2 separate regions of the Homo sapiens genome follow, and region 1 is reported to be linked to region 2. The links are microRNA targets in miRTarBase. Many come from high-throughput screens and were not tested one by one. Region 2 holds a microRNA gene; the other region holds the end of a gene's coding sequence.
What was found. Region 2 holds the annotated microRNA hsa-miR-7705 (AAUAGCUCAGAAUGUCAGUUCUG, at 2,125-2,147, opposite strand). A microRNA usually pairs through its seed, bases 2 to 8, with sites in the 3' UTR of a target mRNA and lowers its output. Matches are read on the target gene's strand: a 7mer-m8 pairs with bases 2 to 8, a 7mer-A1 pairs with bases 2 to 7 and ends in A, and an 8mer does both.

Region 1 (3,421 bases), not on the chromosome of region 2:
TAAGTCAGGATTTTCAGTCCACTCTGAGCAGGTGAAAGAAATAAGACCACCTACTCCACTACCTTAACTTTTATGTCACATGACTTATGAGGTAGGTTTACATCATGGGATTTACTCTATAACCCAAAAGTGTGAAATACTTCTATTACATATAACAAAAGAGTGATAAAGAAATAGTGGAACTGCCTTAACTTGGTTGTGTTACAAAAAGCTGGTAACTAACTACCCATTGTAAAATGAGCGATGGTGAAGAGTATGGGCTCAGAAGTAAAAATGCCATGACTGGAATCCAGCTCAGTGACTGAGTAGCTATGTGATCTTTGGGGGTTACCTAACATACCTACATTGTGTTGTCCTCACCTTTAAAATGGGCATAATAGGAGTACTAATCTCTTAAGGTTGCTGTGAGGTTTAATGAGATAATTCAGCACTTAGAAAGGCATCTGGCACCAAGGAAGCTTTCAATAAATATTAACTATTACTCAGAAATTGAATAGTTTTTTATTTGTTTGGGTCAATCTCAGTACTACTAGAACTCAAAATACTATATTCTAATTGTTCTAATTTGTACCATCTGCAAAAGACCCTTTAAGACTGCTTCAATGATTCTGAAAAGAATTAACAAAACCCTGTTACTAGGTGCCTGACCTTAGATATTACAACTGTTTCATTTACAAAACCTCCACTACAAAACACTAAGCTTGCAACAAAACAACAAAATGAAAGCCACATAATTTGAGTAACACAATAGTACATATTCTTCAGCTGATGAGAGTAATAGGGAAATGTATATACTTCCTACACAAATGCATCTAGGGAAAGCAGGCTATATTTATTCAAGAACTAGAAAAAGGTTACAATATAAATCTATCAAACAAAATTCATTTTTGTTATATTCAAGTAACTCATATATATTCAAATTTAGACCAAATCAAGACAACAATCCAATACACAGATTATTATATAGCTCAAGGAGCAAAAAACAACAGTCTTGTCAATACAGACTCTACATAAATACACAAATCTCAAGTTTTAATATAACATGAACAAATCACAAGTACATGTGTTAGTGTTCTTTCTCCAAATTTCTAGTAGTAAATCTTGTATATTTAGTAAAAGCATATAGAATGTATAAAACCTTCAACCACATGTAATGTAGACTAGGAAGTGTAAATCAAGTAGAATGTGAGGTTTTTATATGTAAAGATGTACATTTCAGAAAGAACCCAACATGAAGTAAATTAACAAACATATTGCAAAGGTGGTCACTCACAAAAATGCTTATCATTTGCAATTGTATACAGAGAACAAACTGCCCAGAAATTAATACTGGAATCTTACTGAGGGGTATTATAGTAACCAACCTTAAAGGACAAATAACTTATTTGGGGGGTTAAAATAGCAGAGATCAGTGTAAATTAAATAACACATGAATGAAAAAAATCTACAATATACAATAGCAAGAGGTGAGAAAACTGAATACTGTGAAAAAGATTTATTAGTCTGTACAAGTTGGTTTTGATGAACTACTGGTTACTTGTTAAGTAAATTGTCAAGATTTTCATTGTGACAGTATTTTCCCTCACACATCAGAATCTGGAAGCAATATGCCTTTTTCAAATTATCACTTAGTGTTTTTTTTCCCCACCCCTCAAAACACAGAAATAGGTTTTTGAATATCAACTAGCCATTATGGAAGCCGTAAGATACAGATATTCATCAACATTACACAAGCTACAGTTAAGGTACCTGGACAAACACTACCAACATTTATGAAAAAAGATGTTGGTTTTAAAAGTGTATGAGGAGTTACAATAAACACACTATTCATGTCCTCCTGAAACCAAAATGGGGGAAAACCTTATTGTCATTCTGCCAAACACCACATAACTAAAAATGCTGCACAGTCATGAATCCAATGTACATATCACAGGATTAAAACTCCAGTTAAGCAACTGAGCTAATCATTGAAGTAAATTAAAAATACCAAGCTTCTTTAACCTATCAATGCTGTTTTAGAAGCATCATCCGAACAAATAGAGATTTAGTTATAAATTGGCCTGGGCTACATTCTGTGATGAGAATTTTGCTTAGTACTAAAAAAGAATCTCAAACATCCCAGAAAAGCTGTGGAATCATGCTCTTTATTATTCCTGAAAGAAAATTTGCCACGTTTGATGATACCTCTATTCTTCCCCGTGGTGCTAGGAGTTCTAAATACCAAGTAATTCAGAAAATGATAGGAGTATTTAAGCAAAAAGAATAGCAAAAGCAGACTTTGTATCAACATATCCTAGATAGATGGATTTTTTTAAAAATTACATGATAAATGTAAATCATAAAATTGAATGTACTTATAAAGGTACACCTATTTTGTGCTACATAAAAAAACTGTAGACTGCAAACTGTGCATGCTTACCATAACATTTTACCCGGGGTCGATGAGTGGGATTTCTTGCAAATATTTACTGCTATGATATAAAACAATTATGTGCAAACTGCAAGGTCCCTAAAATAGCAGTTAAAGAGTTTATATACAGAAAGATGTCACTATCTGATCAAATATGCAAGAGATGGAATTTCCCAGAGTTTATAACACAGAGCAATAACCACCACAGGCTCCTCCTCCTTGGCCTTCTTCCCTGTGTGACAGTTTGACTCCTTTATTCTGGTTCTCACTTTCCCACAGTCCAGGGGTCTGAATGATCTTTTCAACAAGTTCTTCAAAGGCACATTGTACACCATCACAGGTTTTTGCACTTGCCTCTGAAATTCAAGGAAAAAGGTCATTCATAGTATATTCCTTTCTGGCCATATTCTCATGTTTTTCTGGGAAACTATCAGGGCATAAATATCAGCCTACAATATATTAAGATCCAAATCAGCAATTTTTCCCCAAAGGTCAATAACTAGTGAATTTCCAAATCTCAAAATTGAGCTAATTAAATTCTATCCATAAGAATACTAGTATATAATTTTATACCAAAAAAACACTGGTTTATAATCTTAAAACTGTGATAGAATTGTAACTTGTAAAGCCCTACTTAAATAGCGAGCGAAAGTTTTTTCCTTAAGCTTTCAGTTAACTCTTACAACTTGCTCCCAAGGCAGATATTATTCCTATTTTAAAATAAAGAAATTCATACAAGTTAAACAATTAATCTGATTATTCTGTGCCTTCAACCAAGCAGCTCCAGGCAGCTGGACAAAATGACAAACCACCATGAAAACTGGTCCCACAGCAAATGTTTGCTCATGAAACTCAACTGGACACTCAGCACTGCTTCCAACCCTGCGTTTCCTTAGTGATGATCTTTCTCACCGTCTGAGATGAGTACTTTATTCCTTCCTCTCAAAACTCTATCGCAGCTAATAATCTAGCTGCATTATGCTGAGAAAATCAGAAGCAATCTGGCAAGAA
Region 2 (3,421 bases):
AAATAAATTGTTTAGACTTCAGTCCCGTCCCCAAGATCTCATTCTGTATATGTAAATATTCCAGAATCCCAAGCATTTCTGAAAAGGGATAATCAACCTGTACTGACAGGGTTAGGTTCCTGTAAGCCTGTGACATTTCCAGCAATTAATACATGACCTTGTTTTATGTGTTTGTTAAGATACCTTAATATACATTAATACTGAATTCATGTAACTCATGTCACCCATGCCTGAAAAAAAGCCTCCCTAACATCCATTTTCTCCAAAAGGCTCATCTCTTCCTTCTTGTGCTAAGGAACACCAGGTAACACTTCTGCGCTATGCTTGGGGGCCATTTTAAACAGCAAAATCCACCCACAAAAGGCACAAAAATGTCAAGAACATAGCACTCAACAGACCATGAAAGGGATACTCGTCTGGGAAGTGTGTTATCAGGTGACGCAAACTTTTTGTTGCTCTGCACACATCCATGAAAGCAGCATGCACACTGATTTGGGGGTTACAAATAAATTTTAGTGAGTAGGCAAATTTGTAAATACGGAATCTGCAAATGAGAATCAACTGTTTCCTTAATTCCTGCAAGAATCCAAATGCCTACTCCCCAAATCTGTTGGCTCTGGCCACTTAAAGTTTGCTCTATCTGAAAAAGCAGACATTTCAGGAACAGATGAATATGACTTATCTTCGAATCTCACAACAAATACTGACTTCCAATCAATCAGCTACCTAACGTATAAAGCTATGAACCCAACCTGGCACTAGATTTTGGTGTGTGAACTAGTGTGTGAACTTTATAGATTTGACTTCAAGTGTCTCAAAATAGCCGGCTCTTTTAAAACCTCAAAATTTGAACCATTTTGTATTACAATTTTGAAAAAATATGGTGTTTCTCTGCCTTAACACAATGAAGAAAATCTTTCAAAAAAAAAAATTGTAATGAAGCATCAGCCCCTGAGAGGGTATGTCTGTTGTGAGGCAAAATACAAAATGATCAGGATCCCCACTGGATGCACTGTTCTATGCTAAAGGGTAGGAGGGTGGAGTTTGTATTATCTTGAGTTTCAAAACAAGAAGCCAAAGCGAAAAGCATTCTAGGTACAGAAGCATCACTAGGCTTCATCAGCATTGAGGGCTGCCACTGTCACAAGCTAGGGTTTTGTTTAGATTTATTTAATCCCGAAGGTTAATAGAATTGTTTGTTTAGCATGGAATGAGATAACCACACGTTTAACTTAGAAAGCTAACTCTAGCAGTAGTCCACAGAGAATGATCGGTTAGAAATTAAAACCTAAAAGTGTAAACTGCCTGGGTTATCAGTTTTATGCAGATACCCTATACTCCAGGCTAGATCTTCTAAATCCATCCTCCTAAAAGAACCCCACATCTTCACCTTTAACAAGTACTTTGGGTATTACACTAAAATTAAGCCACAATCATGAACTACCAAATTAAAGACGTTACAAGAATAAGGTTTAAAACTAATCATAACTTTTAACACTTTAATATTAAAATCATACCAAAGCCTATCTTATCTACATCCTCTTCAAGAGTAGCTATCATTGTTTTATATCATGTAAGGGTTTAAGCTAATAATCTCATAGCCTAGAAACCTCAATATAATCATCAACTGGCAGGCCAGGCATGGTGGCTTATGCAGGAATAAGCCTTATGCTTATGCTTGAGCCCAGGAATTCGAGACCAGCCTGGACAAAATAGGGAGACCCAACCTCTACCCGCAAAAAAAAAAACCCCATAAACTGGCTTATCTTCAAAAGTGGATGGGTGTCAGTCTTGTACATGAAATATTAAGATCATGTAACAAATACATGTAACAAATTGTTTCAATAATCCGTATGGAAACCTTAACTCATAAAATGCACTACAGGAATTGTCTTGTGCCTTTTACATAAAACCAATAGACCCCCTGAACTTAACAGTACATTTTTCATAAAAGATTCTTATGTCGGCTCAGCACCATTAAGATATTACCTATTTATGCATGGCAATTATAAAGACTTTGAAAAAAAGCAAATCCGTGCACTGTTTAAGGAATTTTTATTAAAGCAAGAATTTTATAATCCAAATTACGTTTCCTTGCTCAGTTATCAATTCTGTTACTTAAAACAGAACTGACATTCTGAGCTATTCCACAGTAAAGAATTACAAAATTAAAGAAAGGAATGCTTTAAATTTTTGTACTTTGCTGAAAATTCTTTTTCCCAGGGTCTATAAAACATTAATTTGTTTTTATATTTTACTATTTTTTTGTGTTTTTTTGTTTTTAAATCAATAAGTAATCTAGGACTAGCATTATGTTTGCTAGACCTGGCATTTGCTCGGTACATAAGGTTCAAAGTTTCCTTTCCTTTTTTTATTTATTTTATATTTTGCAATGTTTTTTTTCCATAATATTTAAGTTTTTCGATGTTTAGATATTTTTCTTCGGTGAAGCACAAGTTTCTTTTCATGGTCCCTGATCAATCTGTAAATGTTAAAAAAACAAATTAAGACCAGGACTATCACTTGTCAGTAGCAAATTAAAGCCCTTAGCCAAATGCAATGTGGTTGTTTTTATCCATAGTTTTACTGGAACACAGCCATACCTGTTCATTTGTATACATACTATCTATGGTTGTCTTGACATGGTAACACTGGAACAAGATCATTTCAGAGATAACACAGTCCTCAAAGCCCAAAATATTTCCTATCTGGCCCTTTACAAAAAACATTTGCCAATCCCTGGTCCTGATCCTGGCTGCACTACTCAATTTCTTGGGAGTGATGAAAGACAGTAGTAGAGACCCAAGGGCACCACCCAAAAAGGAAAGGTAAAACTATGAAAGCCAACCTGTGACAGGTCATTTTATATATATATTACTATACAAAATCTGGCAGGGCGCAGTGGCTCACGCCTGTAATTTCAAGACTTTGGGAGGCCGAGGTGGGCGGATCACTTGAGGTCAGAAGTTCCAGACCAGCCTGGCCAACATGGCAAAACCCCAAGTCTAGTAAAAATACAAAAATTAGCTGGGCACGGTGGCAGGCATGGGCCTGTTAATCCCAGCTGCTCGGGAGGCCGAGGCAGGAGAATTGCTTGAACCTGGGAGGTGGAGGTTGCAGTGAGCCGAGATCGCGTCAATGCACTCCAGGTTGGGCGACAGAACGAAACTCCATCTCAAAAAAAAAAAAAAAAAAAAACACCACCTGAAAGTCCTGGGATTTTAAAAATCCAACAGTTAACGGGTAAAATTCCTTTAATTCCTCTATAGTTAGTTCCACTTTTCCTTGAAAAATTAGCAATACATTTAAATGAACTGTAAAATGATCTTTTGCTATGTACATTTCAAAATATGCTCAACAAACTTTATAAAAGATGAAGAAAACAAGCTTAAAACAACAAACCAGAGGGAAAAGCTCACTT

Region 1: the mRNA of RAB18 is a reported target of hsa-miR-7705. Seed matches in the 3' UTR shown: 8mer at 963-970.

Annotation. Positions count from the first base shown.
Region 1 is chr10:27,537,221-27,540,641 of GRCh38, reverse strand. It overlaps RAB18 (RAB18, member RAS oncogene family), which reads right to left. Exons shown (of 7, transcript NM_021252.5): 7 at 1-2,766. The coding sequence ends at 2,591. Among named protein-coding and RNA genes, the nearest start is that of LINC02680, 27 kb to the left of the region's middle.
Region 2 is chr8:100,700,878-100,704,298 of GRCh38, forward strand. MIR7705 (microRNA 7705) reads right to left here and starts at 2,147; the gene lies at 2,091-2,147. It overlaps PABPC1 (poly(A) binding protein cytoplasmic 1), which reads right to left. Exons shown (of 15, transcript NM_002568.4): 14 at 3,420-3,421; 15 at 2,039-2,482. The coding sequence ends at 3,421.